Homo sapiens: one gene and its partner. The protein of the gene in region 1 purifies or fractionates together with the protein of each later gene. This does not show direct contact. Each region holds a gene or a part of one and is shown in the gene's direction. Other genes may lie near its edges.

Region 1 (3,821 bases):
TTTCTTCACTGTAGTAATATGCGAACTGTTCCAAAGAGGGAAGTCTTTGGACACTGGAGGGGACTGAATTGGAGAAGGAAAGGAAGGATGAAATGAATCTCAGGTACACAGATGCCTGCAGGAAGTTGTTCAGCACAATGAATCACCAAATATTTTAGAGATAAAATTTCAACAAAAATTTGAGAAATATATTTTGTGCTTAGTACTGTGCCAATGGTTGTGAAACATATAAAAGAAATATAAGAGCCTGGAGGCAGTGGCTCACGCCTGTAATCCCAACACTTTGGGAGGCTGAGGTGGGCAGATCACTTGAGGTCGGGAGTTGGAGACCAGCCTGGCTAACATGATGAAACCCTGTCTTTACTAAAAATACAAAATTATCTGGGCATGGTGGTGCATGCCTGTAATCCCAGCTACTCAGGAAGCTGAGGCAAGAGAATCGCTTGAACCCAGGAGGCGGAGGTTGCAGTGAGCTGGGATCACACCATTGCACTCCAGCCTGGGTGACCAAGTGAGACTCTGTCTCCAAAAAAAAAAAAAAAAAAAATGAAAAAAGAAATATAAGAGAAGGTCCTTATGCAGGCCTTTTGCAGAGGAACTTTTGCTGCATACAAGGGTTACTGGACTTAGAGGTGTGAGACAGCATTGTAGCCCCAGCTAGTAAGGTAGGTTGCCTTGAGTAGGTGGAACTGACCTTGATCAGAGAAGAGAGTGGAGGTGTATTCTGGAGGAAAACTACATGAACAAAGGGATGGAAGTGAGGAGAGGGATCTGCAGCAGGTGTGTTGATTGCATTACAGTGGGAAATAAATGCTTAGCCATCATGAGCTCCTTTACCAGGGAGCTTGGTCAGCTGTGAGGTGTTTTGGCCTCCATCCTTGCATCTGGAACATGAAGAAATGAAAGTTGTGTTTAATGAGCATTAGTTGGAAAGGCAAAAAAAAAAAGCAGAAGGATTAGAGTAACAGGATGATCTGGGATTCCAGGGCCTTGGCATAATACATTCACATGGTTCAAAATGCAAAAAGTACAGAACGATATATGTATTGTGAAGAAACCACCTTCCACCCTTGTCCCCCCAGCCACTCAGTTTTTCTGCTGGAGACAAAGCTACTGCTTCCTTGGGTATAACTGTGAAAATGGTCTCTGCAGAGACAAGCAAATGTGCTTATGTACTTTTAAAAAATAAAATGGTAAAATAGTGTATAGACTCTGTCCTTTGCTTTTTCACTTAATACATCACGGAAATTGTCCCATATTGCCTGTAAAGTAAAGCACTTTCTCATTTGTCTTTATGGCCATATAGTATCTCACTGAGTGAATGTGCTTTTATTTATGTAAATCAGCCCATTAATGAACATTTAGGTTTTTCCAGCCTTTCCCTATTATAAACAGTATGACAAAGAATCACACTATAAATGTAAACATGTCGGTTTTGCACATGGATGAATATATCTGTTAGATAAATTACTAGAATGCAGTATCAGGCCCCGCATGTACAAAACATGTATGATTTCATTAGGTACTATCAAGCTGTAGAGGTGGTAACAGTTTACTCTCCAGTGTGTTATGCACTCTGGCCAATGTACATGTTATCAGACTTTTTGATCTTTGATAATCTGACTAATGAAACACAGTAGTTTTACATGACTCTTTTTTTTTTTTTTTTTTTTGAGATGGAGTCTTGCTCTGTTGCCCAGGCTGGAGTGCAATGACGCGATCTCGGCTCACTGCACCCTCCGCCTCCCAGGTTCAAATGATTCTCCTGCCTCAGCCTTTCGAGTAGCTGGGATCACAGGTGTGCACCACCACGCCCGGTGTGCTAAAAATACAAAAAAAATACTTTTTTGTATTTTTAGTAGAAACAGGGTTTCACCATGTTGGCCAGGCTGGTCTTGAACTCCAGACCTCAGGTGATCCACCCACCACAGCCTCCCAAAGTGCTGAGATTACAGGTGTGAGCCACGGTGCCTGGTGACGTTTTTCTGTTTTGCTTTTTTTTGTTTTGTTTTGTTTTAATGAGTGAGGTTGAACATTTGTTCATATGTTTAAAACCAATTTGTGATTGTGCAGGATGGCTCGTGTCTGTAATCCCAGCACTTTGGGATGTCAAGGTGGCTTGAGCCCAGGAATTTGAGACCAGCCTGGGCAACCATATGTAGACCCCATGGCTACATGGGCATGGTGGTGTGCACCTGTGGTCCCAGCTGCTTGGAATGCTGAGGTGGGAGAATCCCTTGAGCCAAGAAGTGAGTGAGCCATGATCGTGCCACTATGCCCCAAGTGGGGCAACAGCGCGAGACTCTATCTCAAAAAAACCCACATGGAGAAACCCCGTCTCTACTAAAAATACTCTACTAAAAATTAGCAGGGCGTGGTGGCGCATGCCTGTAATCCCAGCTACTCAGGAGTCTGAGGCAGGAGAATCACTTGAACCTGGGAGGCATAGGTTGAGGTGAGCCGAGATTGCACCATTGCACTCCAGCCTGGGCAACAAGAGCAAAACTCCATCTCAAAAAAAAAAAAAAAAAAAAGCCACCATTTCAGTTACCTTTTGTGTAAACCATCTATATCCTTTTTCTAATGTTTCCACTGGGTTGGTTTTTCTTTTTTTTTTTTGAGATGGAGTCTCACTCTGTTGCCCAGGCTGGAGTGCGGTGGCGTAATCTCAGCTCGCTGCAACTTCCACCTCCCAGGTTGAAGCCATTCTCGTGCCTCAGCCACCTGAGTAGCTGAGATTACAGGCATGTGCCACTACATCCGGCTAATTTTTGTACTTTTTAGTAGACATTGGGTTTCACCATGTTGGCCAGGCTAGTCTTGAACTCCTGACCTCAAGAGATCCTCCTGCCTTGGTCTCCCAAAGTGCTGGGATTACAGGCGTGGGCTACCACACCCGGCTGGTTTTTCTTTTTTGCCTTAATGATTTTTTTTTTCTCTGAGATTAAACTTTATTAAAGTTACTTTTCCAGAAAATTCAGTGAATATGGTAACATAGGAACAAACTTAGGCTCATAAGCCCTTTACATTTTTACATAATCTTTAATGATGTTGATCAGGAAATTCTTTCACTGGTAGAATTACTTCTCCATTCTCCAGAATTGTATCATCTGGGAATATTCTGGGCTTCTTTTCAATGGTGCCATATGGTTTTTTTAGATACATGATACTTCTTGGTGCTCTATATGTTCAGAGAAACTTCTCTAGTAACAAACTATAGAAATGATGATTTTTTATTTTTTAAACAGTAGAGACAGGGTCTCCGCATGTTGCCCAGGCTGCTCTCGAACTCCTGGGCTCAAGCAATCCTCCTGCCTCAGCTTCCCAAAGTGCTGGGATTGTAGCTGTGAGCCACCACACCTGGTGATTTTTAGGATTTTAAAAGAACACGTTGAAAAATTAGCTCTGTATCTGTGAAATGAGTTACAAACAATTGGCCGAGTATTTTGGTCGGTTTTTTGTTTTTCATCTGTAGCAGGGGATAGGTTTGGCTGAGCAGAAAGGCCATAGGAAACTGCTTCACTAAACTTCGCTCACTCAGAACCCTCAGACTTTCAAAGAGCCAGGAAATCGGTATAAAATTTTTGAGATAACATTAATTAAGCTTTTTGCAGTTTTTCCTAGGACCAGATTAAACAGAAGTTTTCCTTTACAGTATTCATTATGGTTGGTATCTCCAGAGTTCATCCTTTTTTTGTGGTACTGGGAAAAGTTGCAACATTTACCTTTGCAGGGACATGGATGGAGCTGGAGGCCATTATCTTTAGCAAACTAACACAGAGCAGAAATCCAAATACCACATATCCTCACTTATAAGTGGG
Region 2 (3,821 bases), on another chromosome or scaffold:
CCCAAAGTTTTGGAATTAAGGCGTGAGCCATGGCACCCAGCCTGCATAGGATCATTTTGATTCTCCTGAGTTTGCTTCCTCCTTGTAAATAAATAAATTTTCTCTTATAAATAGTTAGTGGCCGGGCGCAGTGACTCACGTCTGTAATCCCAGCACTTTAGGAGGCCAAGGCGGGCAGATCACAAGGTTAGGAGATCGAGACCATCCTGGCTAACATGGTGAAACCCCGTCTCTACAAAAAATACAAAAAAAAAATTAGCCGCTTGTGGGGGCAGGTGCCTGTAGTCCCAGCTACTCAGGAGGCTGAAGCAGGAGAACCTGGGAGGCGGAGCTTACAGTGAGCCGAGATCCCGCCACTGCACCCCAGCCTGGGCGAGAGCGAGACTCCGTCTCAAAATAAATAAATAAATAAATACCGTTAAAATGTGCCTCTGCTCCCAGGAGACTGTTCATGTATCTCTAAATATACTGATAGTTGAATTTCTGAAACTGGAAAATTAAAGAGTAGGTTGTTGACAGTGGCTTCACAGTGTTGATGCTATGCTGTAAGAGCCTGCCTACCTGCCATTTCTCTTGACATACCTCTTTTTTCTTGTTGCACACCTCAACCTGTGACGCTCATCACTTCTGGTTTATGTGTTTTTTCCAAGCAGTCTCACAAGTTATAATATGACTCTCAGTTGTTTTGCTGAAATTCTGTGTTGATGGTGATGTACTTTTACTGTGAAATTTGTGTTTAAATGAGGGTGTGTGAATGGGATGATGGGAGTGACAGTTGCAGTCTGTTGAAATGTGGTTCTTTTTTTGTTTGTTTTTGTTTTTTAAGAGACAGGGTCTTACTCTGTTGCCCCAGGCTGGAGTGCAGTGGTGCAACCGCAGCTCACTACAGCCTGGACCTCCTGGGCTCAAGCAATCCTCCTGCCTCAGACTCCTAAGTAGCTGAGACTACAGTCACATGCTACCATGGCTGGCTATTTAAAATTTTTTTTTTTTAGATATGCGGTCTCACTATGTTGCCCAGGCTGGTCTCAAACTCCAGGGCTTAACCCATTTGTGCTTAGCCTTCCAATGGAACGCTAAGCTTGTGGGAGTTATATCCTACTACTCAAGGTCATTGCCAAGGTATGATTTTTTCACAAAAGAAAATTTGCAACCTCTGGCCTAAATGGGTTAAGTGATGCTCACACCTCAGCCTCCCCAAGTGCTAGGATTATAGGCATGAGCCATCATACCAGATCTGAAATGTGTTTTAACTCAGCGAGTTGAGCATTAAGGACTTAATAGTATTTTTTTTCAAGTCATGCATAAAACTTGTATAATTGGGCCTACAAATTTGCTCATATTCAGAAGAATTTGATTTTGGTAGGAACTCATTTTCCTGTTCTGTTCCTCATGTCTATAAATTCTGAGAGCAGATATGGCATAATCACTTTTTTTCCAGTTTAAATGCTGTGTTTTCAGTTTTTATTTCAGGTAACCTTACTATGAAAGCTGTAAGGAAACATAGAATGATAATGTTAGCAGAGAGAACTGGAAGGGACAGCTGTAATGATGATCTAGCCCACCTGCTTGCTTGACACATGGGAAGGGTGAGGTCTGGACCTGCTGAGTGTCATGCCCCTCGCAGGGAGTTACTGGCAAGGATAGAACTCATGTTCCTCAGTTCGCATGTGGCCTGGTGAAAAATCATTAGGAGGAAAACCTTTCAAAGCCTGAGTTTGTTCTGAATGCCTTTCTGGAGTATGTAATAATGCAGGGCAGATTTTATGTTTTTTCATGATAAAATTATAGTGTACCTTTGTTCTTTCTATCTGCAACACATTATTTCATCTATTTGTGCTGTCAGGTTTTTTTCAGTTTGATTACACATCATAAAATATTTTTATTAGTAGTACATTCCTAATTCTTTTTTCCACTTGTATTTAGTTGTTATTTTCTTAGTTTCACTTTATTTTCCAGTCTCCCCCCTCCCACCACCCCACCAAGATGGAATCTTGCTTGCCCAGGCTAGGGTGCAGTGGTGCGATCTCAGCCCTGCAACCTTTGCCTCCCGGGTTTAAGCAATTCTCCTGCCACAGCCTCTGGAGTAGCTGGGATTACAGGCACGTGCCACGACACTGGGCTAATTTTTGTATTTTTAGTAGAGACGGAGTTTCACCATGTTGGCCAGGCTGGTCTCGAACCCCTGACCTCGTGATCCACCCGCCTTGGCCTCCCAAAGTGCTGGAATTACAGGCGTGAGCCAGCGTGCCCGGCCCAGAGTGATAAAACTTTGGGGGTGGTAGAAGAGAAGGAAGATTGCAGTGCAGGAAGGATGATATTTGGGACCCTTTTGCCAGTGTTCAAGATTATTTCAAAGTGCACACTTTATTTAATAGTACTGTAGTTAGTTAGCATACCCAGAATAAATCATTCCCTTTTCCTCCCTGCTAAAAATTAAATCTAAAATTATATCCATTTCCATAAATTCATTCATTCTTTAGTTCAACAAATATTTGAGCATCAGTTATATAACAGGCCCTGTTCTAAGCATTTATGATCTCGTGAATGAAACAAAGTCTTTGTCCTCAAGTAGTTTACATTTAATGGGGCAGAAGGACAATAAGTAAATATATATTGTGTTAGTTGAGAGTACATTTTAAATAACATAGTAGGGAAGAACTCTAAAGAGTAATGTTTGATCAGAGACGTAAAAGGAAAAAAATGAGTGGAAAAAGAACATTCCTCAGGTAGAGAAAACAAGAGAAACAGCCCTGAAGGGGAAGTTGATCCCTGTTGTTTGAGGAACAGCAGTCATAGTGAAAGGCGAAGTCAGGAGAGCCAGGGACCACATTGTTTGGTCCTGCTAGGTGACGGGAAGGACTGTGGGTTTTGTTCTGGATGTGGTGGGAATCCACTGGAGGGTTTGAAAGGAGGGTGACATCTGATTCAGGGGAAAACTGGTCCTTCTGCCTTGCGCTGTGTTACTTCTCAGTGCTTTATACTGTTGTATATCTTTTCTTGTTGTAGATCGTCTATGCGGAAAGACCTCTCACAGACAACCACAGATCATTGGCTTCTTATGGCTTGAAAGATGGGGACGTTGTGATTTTACGACAGAAGGAGAATGCAGACCCTCGACCTCCAGTGCAGTTCCCAAGTAAGACATCTGGTGGTTGAGCATCCCCCAGCAGAACCATCAGCAGGTAGCAGAGCATAGCACCTCAGAGTTTTGGATTCGCTTTGGATTCAGACTACAGAATACAGATCCTGACTCTGCCTTTTCCCTGCCGTGTAACCTTGAACAAGTATTTTAATGTCTCTAAATTGGTTTCCTCTTCTATAAGTTAGGTGCCATAATTAACCCCAACTCCTAAAGCTGACGTGAGGCTAATGCATGTAAAATCTTAGCACACAGCAAGCCCTCAATAAATGTTAGCTTCTGTTATCAGTGATAATTATACAATAATCTTTATCCTTGGGAAGGACTTGAAAGAATACATAAGCCTATGATTTTGCTACTTTGTGTCTGTCCTTCAGTGGCCAGCCTTTCTGGAGCATTTTATAGCCAGCCAGGCACTTGGAGCTGCATTTCACATGATCTCATAACTTGGTTGTGGGGGGATTTACATACTAATTTGCATAATAATTTATAATTATGAAGCTCAGATTTTAAATGGTGTCTTTAAAGTTACATAGCTATTAAGTGAGGGCACAGGAATTAAAATTTGATGCTTTTTCCATTATGCTGAACTTGATAAACATTAAGCAGCTTGACCACCAAGTTGTGGTTCTTTCCTACCAGCTGTGTTAATCACATACAAAGAAACGTTTATCTATCT

The links.
Region 2: the proteins of ELMOD3 (region 1) and DDI2 purify together in Homo sapiens (affinity purification with mass spectrometry; one large-scale study listed by BioGRID and IntAct). This does not show direct contact.

Annotation. Positions count from the first base shown.
Region 1 is NC_000002.12:85,357,753-85,361,573, forward strand, and holds part of ELMOD3 (ELMO domain-containing protein 3), read left to right. Parts: intron 1-3,821. UniProt on the Homo sapiens protein: Acts as a GTPase-activating protein (GAP) for ARL2 with low specific activity.
Region 2 is NC_000001.11:15,623,660-15,627,480, forward strand, and holds part of DDI2 (protein DDI1 homolog 2), read left to right. Parts: intron 1-3,009; coding exon 3,010-3,139; intron 3,140-3,821. UniProt on the Homo sapiens protein: Aspartic protease that mediates the cleavage of NFE2L1/NRF1 at 'Leu-104', thereby promoting release of NFE2L1/NRF1 from the endoplasmic reticulum membrane.